3 separate regions of the Homo sapiens genome follow, and regions 2 and 3 are each linked to region 1. Evidence: fine-mapped expression QTL. A gene starts in region 1. Each other region holds a variant in brackets. All regions are shown on one strand. Distances are from middle to middle. Region 1 holds the start of PRKD3 (protein kinase D3). Region 2 overlaps PRKD3 (protein kinase D3). Region 3 overlaps PRKD3 (protein kinase D3).

What was found. PIP is the estimated chance that this variant, and not a neighbour inherited with it, causes the effect.
Region 2: its variant is the best candidate, but not a certain one, in a credible set for the expression of PRKD3 in whole blood (INTERVAL, PIP 0.89).
Region 3: its variant is the best candidate, but not a certain one, in a credible set for the expression of PRKD3 in spleen (GTEx, PIP 0.75).

The regions. Positions count from the first base shown.
Region 1 is chr2:37,321,177-37,328,650 of GRCh38, reverse strand. PRKD3 (protein kinase D3) reads left to right here and starts at 3,818. Exons shown (of 19, transcript NM_005813.6): 1 at 3,818-3,970. It overlaps PRKD3-DT (PRKD3 divergent transcript), which reads right to left and starts at 3,570. Exons shown (of 2, transcript NR_183394.1): 1 at 3,129-3,570; 2 at 1,887-2,174. RefSeq lists a silencer at 3,458-4,087 and an enhancer at 4,728-4,807.
Region 2 is chr2:37,297,046-37,304,519 of GRCh38, reverse strand. The region is part of intron 2 of PRKD3 (protein kinase D3); the gene reads left to right. Among named protein-coding and RNA genes, the nearest start is that of PRKD3, 24 kb to the left of the region's middle. The variant G/A (reference allele first, on the strand shown) is at 3,352.
Region 3 is chr2:37,288,275-37,295,748 of GRCh38, reverse strand. It overlaps PRKD3 (protein kinase D3), which reads left to right. Exons shown (of 19, transcript NM_005813.6): 3 at 2,478-2,616; 4 at 4,750-4,881; 5 at 6,236-6,393. Among named protein-coding and RNA genes, the nearest start is that of PRKD3, 33 kb to the left of the region's middle. The variant G/A (reference allele first, on the strand shown) is at 3,110.

The DNA.
Region 1 (7,474 bases):
CAGTAACCACTCCCTTTAGTTACCAGATTTTCCTAATCTTTTTAGTCAAGCCATCCTTATCACACCTCTCTTTGATTATATACTATGTTGTAAATATATATACAGACATATATTTACAGATACCATGCAAGAAACATGATGGTATGAAATTGATGGGACTTGATCACCAATTAGATTTGGAGAACAAGGGAAAGGAGTTTAGGCTGACCAAGTAGTTTCTGTCTTCAATGACTAGATGGTGGCACTATGCACTAAGACTGGAAATATAGGAAATATATATGGAGATATATGAACATAGTAATATAACCAAGTGTAAAATTATATAAAGCTAAATATAAGTGCAAATAAAGGAAAGAGAGGAGTTATATGGAATACAGAAAGTTACATTAAAAACGAATGAATGTGCCTGGCCCAGAGCTGGTGTTCAATAAGCAATAGATATTATTAATAACCTTTATACCCAAGCAGAAGAATTTGGACGTGGTAAGGTAGGTGATAAGGAATGACTGCAGAGTTTATCATGTGGTACTTTAGGACTACTAGACTAACTACTATCATCAAGACATATTGAAAAAATTCTCTGATTTAATCAACATTTATTGAGCACTATGCTAAATGATGAATAAATTTAAAAAACGGCCGGGTACAGTGGCTCACGCTTGTAATCCCAGCACTTTGGGAGACTGAGGCTGGTGAATCACTTGAGGACAGGAGTTGGAGACCAGCCTGGACAACATAGTGAAACCCTGTCTCTACTAATAAATAAAATAAATAAATAAATAAATAAAAGATCTGGTCTTCTTCAAGTTCAGAAAAGGGAAGGGCAGATAGCGATCCCAGGAGGATGTGATAAACACTCAGTCCACAATAAAATGTGATGAGCCACATGAGAATTATCTCTCAAGGGCTATCAGAACACAGAACAATTATTGATAGCCTGCAAATCAGACAAGACAGTTCCAAGGATATAACAGTTTGAGCTAGTCTAGGACACCAACTTAAAGTCTGTTGTGGTAATCCAGATGTGAGATATGGACTAGGATAACGGCAGTGGAAACTGAGACAGGACATTTTGAGAACTATATCATCACGTATGTCTCTGCTGATAAAGAAATAGATCCTAAAGCATTTTCTCCCATAACTATTTTACTAACTCTATATTGATACCCAAATGCTTTATTGAATTTTTCAGCTGTGTTTCAAGGTCATGGAAAAAGACACAATCACAAAATAATTTTCCAGTGACCACATTCTATAAATTAAAACCAGCTGCAGTTTTAAAATGATGACAATTTCCTCTAGCTGGAAATTGTCATCAATTTCCCTAGTGAAAAAATTCACTGATTTAATCAACATTTATTGAGCACTGTGCTAAACGATGAATAAATAAAAATAAGGGCCATGCGCAGTGGCTCATGCCTGTAATCCCAGCACTTTGGGAGACTGCGGCGGGCAGATCATTTTTTCCCCCTGCATTTAGGTTTCTAAATCAGATGTCTCTGTTATCTCAAGTCACAAGAGTGTTGACTTTCTTTGCTTGCATTAGGTAACATATTTGAATGGCTATGTTGTGTGTCATTAAGTACAAGGAGCCCAATAATGCGGGACAAGCTCTCCAACTGCAGCCATAGAAGAGCAATATTGTAAGCTCGTTTTCATAAAACACCAGCAAGAAGAAAAATCCTTTCCATTTTGAGCATTCAGATTATATTTTCTCTCAAGGATTAAAACATTTCACATGGCAATACACTTATTTATTAAATTCAATCTTTATCTCTGTAATGCTCAGGAATGGAACACCTTGAGGAAACTGTAGTTCATGTTAAGCAAAAAATTAGATACAAAGATAGTTCTTTGATCAAATGTGCTGAAAGATTTACCCAAAGTGGAGGAGACCGCTTTATTTTTAAAAAGAGAAGCAGAACAGTGGAAATAAAATGAAATATATACATTACATATCTCTGTTTTCACACATGCACACAAATACTTAAATCTCTGTATAACAGCAGTTTGAATCGTCTGGAAAAGTTACTTCTAGGAAGAGTAACTTCTGTCACTTTAAGTACTACAGCAGAAAATGGAAGTTAATAGTGAGATAAGACTGGCTGTAAACTGCTCCAATGAGGTCCTGGGAATCTTGCTCAGAGGCAAAATTTGGGGCTGGACTAAAACGTCTGTTGGGAAGTGAAAGGAAGAAAAGGGCAAAGTTAAGCAAGAGAGTCCTTTAAAAAGAAGGCAAACTTGAGTAAATCTACTTTCAATTTTAAAGTAAAAGAATAGCTGAATAGGACTCTAATAACAAAAATATAGTAAGATTGAATTAGATACTGCTGGATGTAAGACATTTAGCAACTTCCAATTCCTGAGAATGTTTCAGAAATCTTTTTTTAAATAGATTTTTAAATAAAGTAATCAAGGTTTTACACAATCTTACCTGCCTTATGTTTAATATAAATTATCTTAATATTTTCATTTCTTAACTTTAAATCCGAGGACATCCATTAAGAGTGATGATTTTGTATCAAAAGTAGGGGCTAATTTATGTTTATTTTTCTTTCTATTCTTGAAAACTGCCCTCTTGGCTGGGCGCGGTGTCTCACGCCTGTAATCCCAACGATTTGGAGGGCCGAGGCGGGCGGATCTCTTGAGGTCAGGAGACCAGCCTGGGTAACACAGCAAGAGACCTCGTCTCTACAAAAACTAACTTAAAAGTTAGTGGGGCGTGGTGGCACACGCCTGTAGTCCCAGCTGCTTGGGAGGCTGACGCAGGATAATCACTTGAGCCCAGCAGCTCCAGGCTGCAGTGAGCTATGATCGTGTCACTGCACTTCAGCCTGGATGACAGAGTAAAACCTTTTCTAGAGAGAAAGAAGAAAGAGAGAAAGGGGAAAAGAAAGAAAAAGAGAGAAGAAAGAAAACTGCCCTCTTGATTGTAGTCCCTCTGATTGTTTCAATATATTTAAGTACTTTTGGGATAAAATGTTGACATAAGGAGAATCATGTGGCTTCTGTGACAATGCCTGTCAGCTTCTCAGGCCTTTCTCTCACATAAGACATCGAAAATTTATGCACAGTGTATTTTCCCTCTAGATCCTTATGCTGCTGACTCCCACTCCCGCCCCACTCACCCGACACGGTCATACTTTGTTTTGGAGCAAAACAAATGTTAACATTGTGTTTCCAGACACCTGGAAGCCCAGGTTTGGTGATTCTGGACTGCACTCCACTTTGGTGGTAGGGTCACATTCGCGTTTAAAGGCCGACGGGGAGGAAACACCGAGCACCGGGAAAACCCCTGCAGTCACCGGAACGTCGGGCTTGGGACGTGCCGGTTTGGGCGCCGAGCTGCGGTGCCGGCGGCCACCCCGGGGGCAGGCAGCAGGGAGGAGCATGCGGGAGGGCTGTGACATCTCAGGGTGGAAGCAGCTCTCTGCTCTGGACGCCTTACAAGTCCCCCGTTCCAACTATCACCTCTGGCCCATTGTCGCCACCGCCTCCCTCAAGAGTGCACGGCAGTAGAGGAAAAGACAGTACCGTCGGCAACAGCGCGATCAAGTACCGCGTGTAACTGATAGACACGCTCGCGACTCCCGCGGCGCCCCTGCCCCGTGCCCCCGCGCTCACGAAGACGCCCGGAACTCGAGGGTGCGGAGCCAGCCCGACTGTACCCGGCGCTCCCGGCGCCCCTTCGCGGGGCAGAGACAACCCCGACCTCCCGCCGCGGCCACCTCCCGGCGGGCGCGGGCCGAGGAACTACAGCTCCCGGCAGGCCCCGCGCTGGCCGCGCGCCCCCGCCCCCCGCGCGCCCCGGCCCCCCGCCCTCCGGCCCCAGGACGGGACGGGGAGGGAGGGAGGAAGGGGCGCCGGAGGCGGGCGGGATCCTGCGAGGCGCGTGAAGCCTCGCTGGCGCCTCGTCCGGTACTCAGACGCTGGCGGGCGCAGTTTCTCACGACGGGCCGAGCCTGCCACTGTAAGTAGTCGCCTCGGGGAGCGCTGAACAGACACCGAAAAAGTTCGCGCCGCCGCCGCCGCCGCTTTGTTCTCCCGGCCCGTCGGGCTGAGGCGGCGGCGGCCCCTCCCCCATCCCCCAAACCCCCAACCCCCCAACTGCACGCGGCGGCGGCGGCGACAGGACTCGGACCCCGCGCCGGGCTGGGCGGTGTCAGCCGCGCTGGGCGGGAAGTTGGGGGAGCGCGCGGCGGGAGGTGGGCGGCTGAGGGGGAGCGGGGGCGCCGCCGCAGCCGCCAGAGGGGCCAAGTTCCGGCGTCCGCGCGGAGGGCAACTTGGGTTCGCGCTCCGCTGGAGACCACCGCGCCCGGCCCATCGGAGGCGATCCGTTCCCGGGTCTCCCAAACTAGTTCCCGAAGCCAGACCCGCGGCGCTCGCAGTGCCGAATTTTGGACCAGCTTTTTCGTTTCATTTCCTCACTTTGCGTTGTAGTCGTCTCAAAGGGGTGAGTAAATGGTGCTTGGAGAATGTAAGCCCCTCGCCCCAGTATCCCGACTGCGTTTGGATTTGCTAGTTGCAGCATTGTTCCGAGTTGCTCCCTCCTGGGAGGTTTTCCTTAAGCTGAAACACTGAGGAGTGCCACTGTTTCTTTGAGCAGTGAAAATAACCATATACTACTGTATTGCCGGTTGGGTATTTTATTTCAGGTGAACGCAGTCAGAGGCATAGGCCTTGCCGTCTGCAGGCACACATACGATTCAAGCGACAAGTGTGTGCGCGCGACCTGCCGACTTTTCCACACACAGATTGATGGCATGGACGTAACTGTGTCTTCAATCACACCCATCCCCACAGGAAATAAGACTATCGGTGTCATCTTTGATTAGGAAGGATAAGTTACACCCTGAACTGCTGCTTGGTGCGACACAGCTTTTATGAGACATAGCCACAAATGGAACAAGAACTTTTAAATGCCTTAATTTGTATCCTAGAAAATGTTATTTTATTCCTCTGAAACTTTTTTTTTACCCTTCTACTTAATGTCGTCGTTCTTACATTTTTAGCGATTTTCATTTTCCTTAGCTTTGCTGCAGAAGGCGTCCATAAAGTTCCCCCGACTGAGATCTAGGCCAGTTTTTCCTTGTCAACGAACCCTTGCTTCCTTCCCTGTTAGATTCCGAGTTAAGATCAAGCATGGACATTCAGCCAAGAAGTTAGAAGATTTTCTAAAAGTAGGATTTGAAACGTGTCACACAGAAACCGTGGAAGGTTTTTCTTCAGTAGGTAGTAATACAGTTGTGGTGGGCCTGAGTGCATGAGCTTGGAGTACTCCTTGACGAGCCAGGTTCCATCCTCGGTTCTATAATTTAGTATATAGCATTTCACATTTCAGGGTGACTCAGGTTCTGTAATTTAGTATATAGCGTTTCACATTAAGAATGTTGACTGATGTGTATCTTAAAACTAATTTTTTAAGCATCCTAGATAATGGTAAGTCTTTTAGAGAAAATTTTAAGCTTTCAGTTTCATCAGATAGCCACTTTAAAATAGAAATTTCTTTCTGTTCGTGGATTTAAACACTGCCACACACACAGAACTTCATAAATAAAACTTTCTGATATTACATTTTTTTAAATTACGAATTGAAAACACCACATACAGAAAAATATGAATAGGTGGTCATTTAAGTGCAGTTTTCTTAAGGGACATTTTGTTCTCATTTTTTTAAAAGACTCTAAAGTTGAAAATACTACAGTGGAGTTAATTGTTCGTTTTTAAAAGAAACTGCTTGTACAGAGCTTGATATATAAGGAAATTCTTTGCTAGTACAAGTTTTAATTTGATATAATGCTGCTTATAATTCACAATCTTCTGTGATGATTGTACTTTGAGTCTCGCTGATTATGTAATTCAGATCGAACTTGCTATATATATATATGTATCTCTTTGAGTAGCCCTCTCAGGAAAAACTTGAGATAATGTGCTTATGAGATATTTTCATTTTAATGTAGGAAAAAAAATTTTTCCATTTCTGTGGTTAGTTTATTGTGGCAGTATGTGAGAAATTGCTCATTGGCTGCTAACCAATCAGATTTCTTAGCTACTACTGGTGCAGAGACTAACATCTGTCAAGCTCAACATGGATTCATATTGCATTGCCAGACTGGCAGTCCATAATCTTATTACTGGATAAACTTTTCAGTTCCTGAGCAGAGCAGATATGGTGTGCTCTCTCAGTACTCTCTGACAGTGGAAGGACTGAGATTCAACTGTCACTGGTCCAGATGAGCAGAATTTTAGAGGAAACAATTTAGCAAATGCTAAGCTCTTAGGAAAAGTATGTTAATCTAAAGTAATAGGTATTTTTGAAAATATATAAATCATTGTCGGGATTGCTACAAGATATGATTTTTTTAAAAACCAACGACGTAGACACTTGAGTTTTTAAATACAACATACAATATAAAAGCAAGAACAATTACTAAGCAAAGTCAAACCTATGTCAAAACATGGACATGGACTTTAGGACGCTGGTCAGAATTGCATTGAAAAAGGCCACATACTTTTACGTGGTAAAAGAATACTAATATTAATACATGTCAAGAGGCGTGGACACAACCCTCCACGTCATTAGCATTTCTAGTACACAAAACTTAAGTTGAACCTGGAAAACTCTTTACTGGGAGGAATTCATGTTATAATAAATATTGTTATTCCAATAGGAAAAGCATTTTATCTCTTCACTTTAGCCTTTGCTGAGTATTGTACAAAAAGAATGATGCTGCACTAAATAATGAACTTCTTTTTGAAGAATTTAATAACTAGATGCATTTTGCCTTCCTGGAATCCTTTTGTCTGTCTCTTTGCATCGTTGACTCTTGCTTATCCAGAGATCTCAGCTTAAATATTTCCTTAAAGGTACCTTTCCTGAGATTCCAGCTGGAATTGAGTCCCCTTAGTATACTCTGCCATATCACCTCTTGCAGTTTATAATTACCCAGCTGTTTGTATGAATGTTATGTCTGTGTCTCACATCACACTTTGAATTTCAGAGAGAGCAGTGGCCATGTCTGTTTCGGTCACTGCTCTATAACTCCAGTGTCTCTCATAACAGTCTGGGAAATAATAAGTACTAATTAAGTATTTGTTAAGTGGAAATACTGCTGTTAGAGCTTCTCCTAATTAGAGTGTTAAAAATGAGATAATGTGTGCATGGGGGAAGGGGAAGGAGAGGGAGAGGAAGTAGATAAACTTGTGATATTACCGTGAGATAATCCTCAAGTAAGTCCTCTCACCTCCAGGGCCTTTGTTTCACCTTGTCTGTAAAATAGGACAGACTGGGTTCAAGATGCCATTAATATCCTATATTTTGATTCCAGTAACAATGATGACAGATTATGTAAGCTCATTTGAATGGAATATGTGACAGCTAGCTCCCCAAAAGAATATTTGACAAGTTCTAAATAAACATATTAGAAATGCTTGCCAACTAGATGATATTATTTAGAGCCTCGTACCCCTGTTA
Region 2 (7,474 bases), 24 kb after region 1:
ATCCATCTGCCTCAGCCTCCCAAAGTGCTGGGATTACAGGCGTGAGCCACCACACCTGGCCTCTTATGATATTTCATATCCAAAAAATTCTGGGTTCAGGTTAATGATGAAAGTTAATAAATTCAAGTCCATGTTGAGTCATTTTCTAATTGACTCAGCTATCGTCCTTATGTCTGTATTTAGAAACAGAATCATTGAGCTGCTTCTCTCCAATTAAATATTTTCCTAAAATTGGTGTTAATATTAGATTTGTTTCTGTGTAATTTATTAGTGCTAAGTTAGTTGCTCAATAGTCAACACTTCTTTTTTTTTTTTTTTTTTTTAGTAAGTACCTGTTAAGTACAAAGTGCTTGGGGATTCAGGAGGAACATGAAAAGAGAATATTCTTTTCCTCATGGAGCTTGTTTACTATGATCGAGTTTATGTTTAAAAAGACTTGTGAAGATTTATTTGGCATCAAATTTTAAAATGACGTTGGTATTCAGTGTCACAAATGCATTTGAAGAAACTTGTGATGCTGATTTTTAAAATGACGTTGGTATTCAATGTCTCAAATGCATTTGAAGAAACTTGTGATGCTGATAATATTCTGTATCTTGACCTGAGTGGTGGTTATGTGGGTTGTGTGTATGTTTATGAAGCTATCAAGCTTCTAATTAAGATTAGTGCATTTATTATATATCAAGTACATTTTAAAAGTAAATGTATGTTAAACTTCGATCGTTTCCCATTGCATTTAGAATAAAACCTTCATTCTTCTTTTTAAAAAAGTACATACTGGCTGGGCACGGCAGCTCATACCTGTAATCTCAGTGATGTAGGATTTTTCTTGACCTCTTCATCGGACTTGGGACGGGGTACCCTGTTTACTCAGTCCGCCACACTCAACCTCTTTTGGGAGGGAACATGTGAGCAAACGAGTGCAGGATCTGGCTAGCTGCCTTGAGTGATGGCAGGAGCAGACTTCATACCTGTGGGGCCCTTCAACCTAAGGGCCCCACAGCGGCACTTAGGTTGTGGTGCCTGAAACCCCCCAGAGGCCCCAGAAGATATAATACTCTCTTAGGTCTGCCATCCATGGACAGCAGCGTGTTATCAGCTCAGTGGGCGCCTTGCCTCATCGTGTGGGGTGGCTGCCCTCCACCAGCAAGGGGAAAGGGCCTATGCAACAGCCTTTTTTGGGGTACTGGCACTTGTTGGGTCTCCAGTGCTTGTCTGGCATCTAAGAACAATGAGATCCCCCAGACACTTGAAGGATGGTGAAGGTGGTAAGTGATGGGAAATGGCTCTCAGCAGAGTGGGATGTGGGAGAGGGGACGGGACGGGCAGGTAATCTTCTCCTGAGGTCCAGCGGCTCTTCCCGATAGTCAGGCCATCCTCTGAAGTCCAGCTGTCCCTCCAATGTCAAGTCACCTCTCTCCAGTCAAGCTGCTTCTCTCTCTCTACTGGCTGAGTCTGGGGTCTTTATAGGCACAGGACAGGGGTTGGGCCGTGGGGCCGGCCGTAGGTAGTTTTGGAAAAGGCAACATTCGATTGGTAAAAAGACATTTAGAAAGAACCAATCAGGAGAGAGCAGGCAAACAGAGATAGAAGTTCTCACTTTGGGCAATGGGTTTCAGGCTTTTCATCTTGAAGGTGGGGTTTCGCCAGGACCCACCCCTGTCTGCCTAGTATTTCTCTGCCTTCTGTCTCTATCATCAGCACTTGGGGAGGCTTGAGGCAGAATGATTGCTTGAGTTCAGGAGATGGAGACCAGCCTGGGCAATATGGTGAGACTGTGTCTAAAAAAAAAAATTAAAAGTTCATAGTGATAAATTATTCATTCAGATAATGTTAAATTCAGAAACCATTGTTAAAGTGCAAAAATTATGTTTGACCAAGTGAAATAACTTGGAAGCTTCCTACCTTGCCTGACATTTTACTGACAGCATTTTAACGACATGAACTTGAAACGGTTCACCTTAAATTACTTTCAAAATAAGTGTTGCTTAAAATAATTTTGTTTGCAACTATTGGAACCTTTTACTTAAAAATGTTAAGTAATGCTGTAAAAAATAACGTCTAAAATGGTTATAGAAAGATTATTTTTTAAAATTATCGAAGTCATCTTTAATACAAAAGCAAAGAATGAAGTGAGCAGAGTGCATGAGGGTGGAAATTTAATAACTGATATTCTGTTGCATTCCCATATGGACTGGGAAAATACTTCATTTTGCACAGTCAAGAGGGGTCATCGGCACAGTTTGTAGTAAGCAAATCCAGAAAAGCTCGGGGGATGGGGGAACAGTTGGAAAGAGGCCAAATTAAAGGGCCATTTTGCTTCTACCATGCTGTATCATTAGTTATTTCTTTAATTTCCTCTTTCTTTTAATCAAGGATGAGGTAGGCCAGGTAAGGAATTATGGACTTGTCTGGTTTTCAAAAGGTTGCCAACTTCTTCCACATTTCCTAGCCTCTTTATTCTCTTGACTCTTTTATTCCCTAAAGCAGGATTTCTCAGCTTCAGCACTATTGACATTTTGGGTGGGATAATTCTTGTGGGGGCTGCCCTCTGTGTTCTACAGTGCTCTACCCACTGAATGCCACTAGCTCAAGTTGTGAAAACCAAAGATGTCTCAGGACATTGTCATATAGCTTCTGTGGGCAAAATCATCTCAGCTGAGGATCATTGCCCTAGAGGAATAAACTAAATAATAGCCAGTGACAATTCCTGACAATTACTTAAACATGTCATCACCTCTGCTGCTTTTCTGAACTTCTTCCCTCTCAGGAGAATAGAATGTTTAGAAGGGATATATATACACCATTTTACTGGGCAAGAATTGTATTTTGAAGAATATAGAGACAACAGCATTAGTACAGGTTTCTGCCCCCGCCCCTTTTGACTCTGTGAGCATAGCAGAGTCACAAATGTAATTAAGGGCCAGGAAAGGTGACTCGTGCCTATAATCTCAGCACTTTGGGAGGCTGAGGCTAAAGGATTGCTTGAGCCCAGGAGTTTGAGGTTGCAGTGAGCAGTGATCAAGCCACTACATTGTGGGCAACAGAGGGAGACCCCCACTCAAAAAAAAAAAATGTAATCCAGAATTGGTTTTAATTAGTTTGCCAAAATATTTTCTCCTTTTCAAATTATACAACTGAAAGAAAAAAAAAAGGCTCTTCTCCTTTGTTCTTTGTTCTCCTGGAGTCTGATTTAGAACAAGAAGCTATTATCTTAAAAGCTCTCTTAGGTTTCACTGCTGTCAAATCATTTTGAGAAATTCTACATATATACTTTGGAATATAAAGTATTTTTGTTTATGGTTTTTTGATATGTTGTTCAGGACTTATTAAAGGTCTCCACATAATGAA[G/A]ATCATTCTGAGGAGTAATTGGATTTGGAGTTTTAAAGATGATCAATCCATTAAAAATAAGCAAAAATATGAATTCCTAATTTACAGAAAAGAAAATACAGATTCACTTAAGCATGTGAAAAATGTTCAACTTCTTGTAATAAAAAAAGAAATGCAAATTAAAACTACAAAAATACCATTTTTCATCTAAAGTCAACAAGTTTGATAATACACTATAAAAACGTGGCAAAACAAGTACATACTCAATATATTACTTGCAGAAGTATAAATTGGTTTGACCGCCATAAAGAGCAATTTGGCAGTATCTACAAATTTCAAATATGCGTTTTCTTTGAGCCAGCAAATCTCCTAGAAAGTTATCTCATATTCAGACTCAAAAAGTGGGAAAAGATATGTACATAGGATTACTCATTGGGTATTGCTCATACTCACAAGAGATTGGAATAGCTAAGGTGTATTTAGCTTATGACGAGTTCTAATCTCTTTTATTTCTATTTTTCTGGATAAATAATAGTTGTACATATTTATGAGGTACATGTGATATTTTGATACAAGCATACAATGCATAATGATCAAATGAGGGTAATTGGGATATCCATCACCTTAAATATTTATCATTTCTTTGTGTTAGGAACAGTCCAATTCTACTCTTCTAGTTATTTTGAAATATACAATAAATTGTTGTTAACTGTAGTCTACCTATCATGCTACCAAACACTGGATCTTATTTTTTCTATCTAACTGTAGTTTTGTAATCATTAACCAACCCTTTTATTCCCCCCACCCACTACCCTTCAGAGCCTCTGGTAGTCATCATTCTACTCTCTATCTCCATGAGGTCATTTTTTTTTTAAATTTTTCACATACAAGTGAGAACATGCAATACTTGTCTTTCTGTGCCTGGCTTATTTCACCAACTGAAATGTTATTCTCTACTTCTGTCCATGTTGTTGCAAATTATAGGATTTCATTCTTTTTATGGCTGAATAATATTCCACCATGTATGTGTATCACATTTTCTGTATCCATTTATCCATTGATGGACACTTAGGTTGATTCCCTGTTGTGGCTATTGTGAATTTTGCTGCAGTAACCATGGGATCGCGGATATCTTTTTGATATCTTGGTTTCTTTCGGGTAGATACCCTGTAGCGAGATTGCTGGATCCTGTGGTGGTTTTATTTTTGGCAACCTCCGTGCTGTTTTTCATAGTGACTGTACTGATTTACATTCCCACCAATAGTGTATAAGCATTCCCCTTTCTTTGCATCCTCACCAACATCTTTAATTTTTTGTCTTTTTGATAAAAGCCATTTTGAGATGAGATGATATCTCATTGTGGTTTTGATTTGCATTTCTCTGATGATTAGTGATGTTGAGTATCTTTTCATATACCAATCGGGCATTTGTATGTCTTCTTTTGAGAAATGTATTATTTAGATCTTTTGCTTATTTTTTAATTGGATTTTCTTTTTTTGTTGTTGTTGAGTCATTTGAGCTCCTTATATATTCTGGTTATTAACCCCTTGTCAGTTGAATAGTTTGCAAATATTTTCTCCCATTCTGTAGGTTGTCACTTCACTTGTTAATTATTTCCTTGCAGAAGCTTGTGTGTGTGTGTGTGTGTGTGTGTGTGTGTGTGTGTGTGTGTGTGTGTATTTTAGTAGAGGTGGGGTTTCACCATGTTGACCAGGCTAGTCTCGAACTCCTGAGCTCAGGCAGTCCACTACCTTGGCCTCCCAGAGTGCTAGGATTATCAGTGTGAGTCACTGTGCCCGACTTTTTAGCTTGATGTGACCCCCTTTGTCCATTTTTATTTTGGCTACCTGTGCTTTTCAGGTCTTACTCAAGGAGTCTTTGCCCAGGCTAATGTCCTGGAGTGTTTCCCCATTGTTTTCTTCTAGAATATGAGGATGGTTCAGCATACGCAAATCATTAAACATAATATGTCACGTCAACAGAGTGAAGACCAAAACCCATATGGTCATCTCAATAGATGCCAAAAAAACATTCAGTAAAATTCAACACAATGAAAACTTCGTGATAAAAACTGTCAACAAACTAGGTATAGAAGGAACATACCTCAAGACAGTAAGGGCCATATATGACAGACATGCAGCTGGTATACTGAATGGGAAAAAACTGAAAGCCTTTCCTCTAAGATCTGAAACAAGACAAGGATGCCCACTTTCACAACTTTTGTTCAACATAATACTGGAAGTCTTAAGTAGAGCAATTAGACAAGAGAAAGAAATAGATGGTATCCAAATTGGAAAGGAAGATGTCAGATTATCCTTTTTTGCAGACGATATGATCTTCTATTTAGAAAAACCTAAAGACTCTGCCAAAAAACCATTAGAACTGATAAATGAATTAAGTAAAGATGTAGGATACAAAATCAACATACAGAAATCAGTAGCATTTCTATATGCCAACAGTGAACAATCTGGAATAGAAACCAAGAAAATTATCCCATTTACAATAGCTATAAATAAAATAAAATACCTAGGAATAAGCTTAACCAAAGAAGTGAAAGATCTCTACAATGAAAACTATAAAACATTGATGAAAAAAATTGAAAAGGACACTGAGTTCTTTGTATATATATATTAACGTATTCTCATGATAATTTTATGAAGTAGGCAAGTAGGCACTATTTTACAGATGGAAAAACTGAGGTTAAGTAACTTGGTTAAGATTATATACTTAGATGGGACTGGTGAAAGAAAACTATACATCTGTTTTTAAAAAAAAAAATAACTTTGTTAATGGAATGATCTCTATATTGCTAAGTGAAAAAAAGAGCAAGCTGCAGAACAGTGTTTATAGTGTGCTGCCATTTGTGTAAAATGAAGGAAAGATACATTCATGTGTATTTGGTATGTAAAATATTTTCAGAAGGATTCTGAGAAAACTGGCAACACTGTTGACTACAGGACGGTTAATGAGGCAGCTAGGGCATGGGTGTGCCGTCTACTCTTTTTTGCCTTTTGAACTTTGAATAATTGCCTATTCAAAAATAAATAAAATTATATTTTAAAAGAGTACATATTATATCTGAAAGTATAAAGTAAATATCCATGAGTCTATATTGATATATATAAATGTTGTGAATAAATAAGTGGGGGAAAATAGATAAATCTCCCATTTGGAAGATTTTCAAATAATTTATGTAGATACTCCACCTTCAAGGAAAGGAAACAAACAAACCTTTCCACTTCTTAAGTGCTCTGCTCATAATGACTTACTTCCAAAGAGTATGTATAGAAAAGGGTGGGGGGAGAGTAGTTTTGCAGTGGAGAAACCTGACAAACACTACCTCAACCAACATCAGTGGTGATGTCATGTTGACAGTAGGTGCCCTTGGTAGAGTGCAATGAGAATGGCACTTTACCTCTGTGGTCTGCCTCCCCAAAACCCATTACCCCAGTAATAATGAAAAGAACATCAGACAAATTCCAGTAGAAAGGCCTCCTGCAATATACCTGACCAGAACTTCTCAAAACAGCCAAGATTGTTAAAATCCAGCAAAGTCTGAGAAACTAACCCAGCCCAAAAGGGGCCTATGGGGACATAACAGTTAAAGGTGATGTGGTATGGATGGGATTCTTAAACAGAAAAAGGGTATTAGGTAAAAATAAGGAAATCTGAATAAAGTATGAGCCTTAGTTAATGATAATGTATGGATATTGGGTTATTAATTGTAATAAATATAGCATGTAACTAATGTACAATGTTAATAATAGGGGAAACTGGGTATGGGGTAGTATACAGGAACTCTGTACTATTTATTGTCTACATTTTCTATAAATTTTAAACTATTTTTAAAAATAGATTATTTTTAAAGAGTATATACAATACATACATTGAATAATATTTTAAAAGTAAATTTAAAATTCAGGTGTTCGCCGCCTATTCCTCAGGAGCTTAACCATAAACCTGAAATGATAGCCTAAGCATCCTTTGTTTTAAGCTCTACAGGTGGTTCTGATGTGTGGCCAGAATTAAGACATTGTTTAGAGATCCACTCCTGCGTGAAAACCTATTTTCTGAATTTTTCAAAATCAGGAACAGTAAATCCTTGTATATTGAATTCATTAACAGTTTGGTTTTTGTTTGTTCT
Region 3 (7,474 bases), 33 kb after region 1:
CACTGGTATTTATGGATCACAGTGCTGAGACTTTTACAGCCATCAAGTAATTTAATTTTGATAAGAACTCTATAAAGCCAGCCTATAACTCCTATTGTCCTCCATTTTATAAACAAGAAACTGATTTAGAGAAGTTAAGCAACTTTTCTAAGGTGCTATAGTTAGTAGGTGGCAAAGTTTGAACATAATAACAGGTTTCTTTGTTAGTATGGTGCCAGTGGGGTTCCCTGTGCTTTTCTGCCCTCTCTCTACCCAGCTTTCCCCCATCTCATTCTTTAGTCTCAAGGCTCCACTTACCGTCTTCCATTTACCTTGTAACTTCTCATTGATGATGCTTACACTTTCAACCTATGGAAACTCTGCTTCTCTTTTTTAGTTCTGCTCAAGTATCATACTGAATCCCTCTACTCCACTGTCCCAGTTAACATTTTTTATTCCTCCTCCTTCTATAATTTTTTATTTTAATTTTGTTATTTGCCTTATACTATATATATTTGTGTTTATTTCTGTCTTCCTACTAGATTGTAAGTTCCTGGAAGATAAGGACTATTCTGTCTTTACAAACTGTGGGGCCAGTATCTTGCACTTACCGGACATGCAAGAAGTATGCCTTTTTGAAATCAGTTTTATTTATACAAATAGTAGAGTGAGTGAGTTTGTTTGTTTGTTTGTGACGGAGCCTCATTCTGTCAGTCACCCAGACTGGAGTGCAGTTGTGCAATCTTGGCTCACAGCAACCTCTGTCTCCCAGATTCAAGTGATTCTTATGCCTCAGCCTCCCAAGTAGCTGGGACTACAGGCATGCACCACCACACCTGGCTAATTTTTGTATTTTTATCAGAGACAGGGTTTCACCATGTTGTCCAGGCTGGTCTCAAACTCCTGACCTCAAATGATCTGCCTGCCTTGGCCTTCCAAAGTGCTGGGATTACAGGCATGAGCCAGTGCATCTGGCCTTAGAGTTTTAATGAGGATGGAATGTGGAGTCCTTTGTCCTTACAAATTTTTGTAACTAGGTTATGAAGATATTTTATTCTCCAACTGAATAATTTCATAAAATTTAGTAAAATTTTAATTTTAAAATTTAAATGAAGATTTAATTTTTTGGTTCTGTATTTTTACTTGTATCTTTTTAATTGAGAATTCTTACACTCTTAGATATATGTTAAACATACTATGAGGTTTTACAAATACTGTTGGTGACTCAAAAGGAGAATTAGTATTACAAAAATTCTAAATATTTCTGTACTTTCCCATTATTTACCCTGGTTACAAAAACTATAAACTTGTAACTTTCTAATTAATCATTGTTTTTAATTTTTTTTTAATTTAACTTTAAAAAAAGATTTGAGAGGCCAGTTGTGGTGGCTCATGCCTCTAATCCCAGCACTTTGGGAGGCTGACGTGGGGGAATCACTTGAGTCTAGAAGTTCAACACCAGCCTGGGCCACACAGCGAGACCCCTGTCTCTACAGAACATAAAAAATTAGCTGGGAGTGGTGACATGCACCTGTGGTCCCAGCTACTGGGGAGGCTGAGGTGGGAGGATCACGAGCCTGGGAGTTTGAGGCTGCAGTGTTGAACTGTGATCACACCACTGTACTCATCCTAGGCAACAGAACAAGACCCTATCTCAAAAAAAGGTTTTGAGAACTCTTTAGAAATATATACAGGACTTTTCTAATGAGAAAATTAAGGTCAGAAAATGAGATGAAACTAGGTTAGTGTTTGCACCTAAAACACATCCCATAAGATCCAAGACTGATGGTAAAATTGGGCTACAAATTTGGCTGTGCTTTTTCCATTTGGCAAAGCAAACAGGAAAACATGTTAACTTACGTGAGCAAATTGTTCATGTTATAAAATCAACTAGATAAAGTTATTTTGTGGGTGGGTCTTCACAAAGAAGGGCTACAGTATGAAATAGGTAAACGATATCAGCAGCAGCGTCTCTGTGACAAATGCATTTAGTTTAGTGAAACTGATTCATATTAGACCATTTGATGCAGGCAGGTGACATGGTGTCATTTATTAAAGGATATTCTATGAGGAGCCCAAATAAGTCAGTGAGCATTTATAATTCTGAGATCTACTGAAGAATTTTGAAATATTTAGAGCAGCATGTCCTAAGGCGCTGGAACGACTGCTTATCTTTCAGGCTAAGAGTGGAGTAGCAGTAAGTTTAAGATTATATTCTCCATCAGTAACTGAATATAGAAATCCTGTATTTGTAAGAGACATGTATTTTAAAATCATCAATGATTATTTATTTGTAAGTTTACTTTTCTATTTTTCTTGAACTTTAAAATTAACCAGGATGCTTGAGTACGTGGATCACCTTTTAGGTATCAATAGAATTGTTAGCAAATAGTGTTAGGTTAAAAACACTATGTTTTAAATTCTTTGATAAAATTGAAACGTTTACTTATAAAAATAGAAAACTGTGGTCATACTGATATAGGACTATTATCCCTCAGTTTCCAGAGTGTGGATTCTTTGGCATGTATGACAAAATTCTTCTCTTTCGCCATGACATGAACTCAGAAAACATTTTGCAGCTGATTACCTCAGCAGATGAAATACATGAAGGAGACCTAGTGGAAGTGGTTCTTTCAGGTAAGTAAGTGGCTTTTTAGAGTGATTGCCTTTTCCCCTCAAAGAGCCTAATTTTCTGTACTAAATGCTGCAATTCGATTATATTTAGTCTTTGTATTATTGTTACTTAATTTCTTTCATCTCTAATAATGGTCACCATATGATTTTTCCTTTCAGGCATGTTATATCACCATTAAGAAAGAAAAATACCTGGCAACGGTGGCTCACACCTGTAAGCCCAGCACTTTGGGAAGCTGAGGCGGGAGGATTGCTTATCTCAGGAGTTTGAGACCAGCCTGAGCAGCATACCTCGTCTCTACTAAAAATTTAAAAAAAAAAAATTAGCCAGGCATGGTCACATGCAACTGTAGTCTTAGCTACTTGGGAGGATAAGGTGGGAGGATTGCCTGATCCTGGGAGGTTGAGGCTGCAGTGGGCCATGATCACACTACTGCACTTCCGCCTGGACAACAGAGCGAGACTCGTCTCTTTAAAAAAGCAAAAGAAAGGCCTG[G/A]CGCGGTGGCTCACGCCTGTAATCCCAGCACTTTGGGAGGCCGAGGCGGGCGGATCACGAGGTCAGGAGATCAAGACCATCCTGGCTAACAAGATGAAACCCCGTCTGTACTAAAAATACAAAAAAAATTTGGCCAGGCGTGGTGGTGGGCGCCTAGTCCCAGCTACTGGGGAGGCTCAGGCAGGAGAATGGCGTGAACCTAGGAGGTGGAGCTTGCAGTGAGCCGAGATCGCACCACTGCACTCCAGCCTGGGCAACAGAGTGAGACTCTGTCTCAAAAAAAAAAAAAGGAAAAAATCAGGATAGGAAAATAAACTGAATTACTTGAATGTTACTAAGCTTAGGAAATTATTTGGTCTGAAAGAAATATACTCTTCTCTGAGTCAAAGAAATAAAACAGTTACACTGAAATTCTGTTTTTTCCCCTTCCCCCACCCCCATTTCTGTAAAGAGCATAAAAGAAGAAAATTGGGGTTTAGAAAAGAGAATCAGGAAAAAAAGAAGTAATGAAGATATGGAAGAGGAAATTACAATGCTGGTTATTTCTGTGGCTTTAAAATTAAAAATGCTCTTTCCCTTTTTGTCCCACTGGGCTTTTTTCTACCTTTCACTTTTTCCACCTCACGCATTCTTGCCATACGTTGTTTTTTAATTCCCACTATTTGCCATCTCATCCTGCAGCAATGTGGGCAAGATAATAAGGAGTGAAAAGGAAGAAAGAATGCCATAATAATGCACATAGTAGGTCTGCAGTACTTTTTGTTTGGCAAGTAGGAGAACTGATGGAAGAAAGGAAGCAAGCTGGCCAGCCATGGGTCAGAGCCCTGCTACCAAGTTCCCTTTTCTCAAATTCACCTTTGAGCCTTTTCTTGAGATCCTCTCTGTCCTTATTAGTCCCCACTCCTCTCATCTTATATTTCTGATTCTCTCATTCATCTCACTCCCTGCTACACTGATCATTCATCTTCTATACAACAACCCCAAACCATCTCTATATTTCCCAATCCTTGCCCTCCTCTTCATTCCTGAGGAGTTTCACTCCCTGTCTCACCTGGAAGTCCTGCTCACATCTCTTCCTTCTCTACTCTGGACTCCATCAGACTACTTGCAGGTTGAGGTGAGAGGAAGTTCCTTGGGTCTACTGTCCCGACGTTCACTAAGGGGAAAGGAGTTTCTTTCTCATATCCACTAGGACTGTGGAGAACAAACAGACAAGTATATCCTGGGATCCTAAATTAGGACTCAGTATCTTTTTCCACAGAAACGTTTCCATAAATTGAAGTTAAGTTCCATAGTAGTTTTTACTTTAGTGTTCTATTTCCCACTGTGTAAGTTAAGCAGTTTTTAATTGGTTAAAGTAACCTAATGTCTGTTTGTAATCTTGTCATTATGAGAAAATGCTGTTGGAGTTCCAAATAACTAACCTATGACCTACTTCTGGAGCTCAAATGATGAGAAGTAAATGGACTTGCTAAACTAGAGTTTGAAATCACAATATTAAATAATTTACTTTTATGGTCCAGTGCAACTTTCAGAGAAAAAATGATTCTGTGTACTTTGACATAAGTGAATGTGTGAGCATTCTTAATCTCATCGCAGTACAAATACAACGTGTATTGTAATACTTTTCTTTTTTAAAGCTTTAGCCACAGTAGAAGACTTCCAGATTCGTCCACATACTCTCTATGTACATTCTTACAAAGCTCCTACTTTCTGTGATTACTGTGGTGAGATGCTCTGGGGATTGGTACGTCAAGGACTGAAATGTGAAGGTGTGTGTTCTAAAATTTTTGTGGTCATTTGAAATAAGATTCCACATTTGCATTTTTTATTATCAGTGAAAAAGCAAGATGACGAGCTGTTGACTAGGGTGGTAACGAGGATTTAGAATTGGAGAGATCAGGACTCTCATTTTATCTCTGCCACCTACTTCATATTCTTGGGCAAATTACTAAACCTCTTAAGATTAATTTCTCGTAAAATACATTCTGCCCCACTGGTTTCATAAAGAGTAAACGGTTAAATCAGGTAATAGGGTTAAATATTTAGTACAAAATAATGGCTCCATAAATATTCATGTTGTTTTTTGTTTTTAAAAGTTTTCTTGGCCAGGCACGGTGGCTCACACCTGTAATCCTAGCACTTTGGGATGCCGAGGCTGGTGGATCACCTGAGGTCAGGAGTTTGAGACCAGCCTGGCCAACATGGCGAAACCCTGTCTCTACTAAAGATACAAAAACTTAGCCGGGCGTGGTGGCGGATGCCTGTAATCCCAGCTACTCGGGAGGCTGGGGCAGGAGAATCGCTTGAACCTGCCTGGGTGACGGAGGTTGCAGGGAGCCGAGATTGCACCATTGCACTCCAGCCTGGGTGAAAGAGCGAAACTCTGTCTCAAAAAAAAAAAGTTGTCTCTTACATACAACTAAATTGTCAAATTTGTTCTGAATTAGAATTGCTAGGAGTAGGACACAGGTGCACATTTCTGATGAAGAAACAGTCTTCTAAGGTGGAGGGTCAATCAACTTTTTCTGTAAAGGGACAGAGAGTAAATGTTTTAGACTTTGTTGGCCATATGGTCTCTGTCATGATTTAACTCTGCTATTACAGTATGAAACCAATCATAGACAATATGTAAACGAATAGATATGGTTGTGTTCCAATAAAACTTTATTTAGGGACATTGAAATTTGAGTTTCATAAAATTTTCATGTCACAGGAGGAATTTGGTACAGAGGCCATAGTTTGCTAACTAGTGCTTTAAGGCAGTGGTTCTCAAACTGTATTGTGCATCGTAAAACACACTTTGCTGGGCCTCATCCCCGTAGTTTCTAATTCAGTAGATCTGGGGTGGAGCCTTGTAATTTACATTTCTAACAAATTTCCAGGTGGTTGCCTTAGGGACCACACTTCAAGAACCACTGCCCTAGCTGACTTATCCTTTTTACACATTTCCTTTTCTTCTTGAATTCATTAGCTTCCACTTAGCCTGCTGTCTGGGTTCTTAATTAGGATAGGTATGGCTAACAGAAAATATGTTAAATAAAAGAAGCAGTGGTTTTTATGTATCACACTTAAATAGTAAATTTTTTTTTAAATCTTATATTTTACCTTGTAAAATATGTTTAGGCTGTGGATTAAATTACCATAAACGATGTGCCTTCAAGATTCCAAATAACTGTAGTGGAGTAAGAAAGAGACGTCTGTCAAATGTATCTTTACCAGGACCCGGCCTCTCAGTTCCAAGACCCCTACAGCCTGAATATGTAGCCCTTCCCAGTGAAGAGGTACGTATTCTAAGGTAATAGACATTTTAGTAGTAGTTATTCTCTGTGTTTCTACAGGGTGTATGACATCACTCTAGAACATAATTTATATGCTAAAGAATGGTAATGTTCCTACACTTAAGAAACATAAAATGTAGTAATGGAGACAGGACTTACCGGTAGTAATGAATTGCATTTTGTACACCTTGGGATGGTATTATGGCTTGTACCACTGCTTTAGCCTTCTAGTCAGTATCCTGGCTCCTGGTCTCCATACTTAAATCTTTTTTTTTTTTAATTTTTTTTTTAATTTTTGTTTTTTTGAGATGGAGTCTTGCTCTGTCGCCCAGGCTGGAGTGCAGTGGCACGGTCTCTGCTCACTGCAACCTCCGCCTCCTGGGTTCAAGCAATTCTCCTGCCTCAGCCTCCCAAGTAGCGGGGATTACAGATGCGTGCCACTACACCCAGCTGATTTTTGTATGTTTAGTAGAGATGAGGTTTCACCATGTTGGACAGGCTGGTCTTGAATTCCTGACCTCGTGATCTGCCCGCCTCGGCCTCCCAAAGTTCTGGGATCGCAGGCATGAGGCACTGCTATCTGCAGATCTGTATACAGATGAGACAGTTGAGACACAGAGCAGCTAAGTGACTTGTGTGAAGTCAGAGAGCAAATTAGTAAGAGATAGTGGAATTAAACCCAGATCTCATTATTAATAAATCAGTGATTTTTTTTCCTAATACAGTGTACCTCTCAAGGGCAAAGGCAGTAGATCCAGGAAAAAAGAAATAACTCCCTTGTACATTTCATAGTATTTGAAATGACTTCCATCTGTAGGTTGTAATCTTATTATTTAGTTTTTTCTGTAACTTCTCTGATCTTCTGTAAATTAATGGCAAAATCAAGGCCTTGTCTTGGTACTGTGATCATAATATTTTGCTAAGTTAAGACACCAGAGTAAAAGCTTTTGAAATCCTTTCACAAAAATTCCATCTTCTCTTACTGCTTAGCCCTAGTGTGAGATTTTTAAAGGATAAAAAGAGTGCTGCGGCATAAAGGACTGAAAATGAGGGGTTGGTATAAACCTACAGAAGAGCCTGGAAA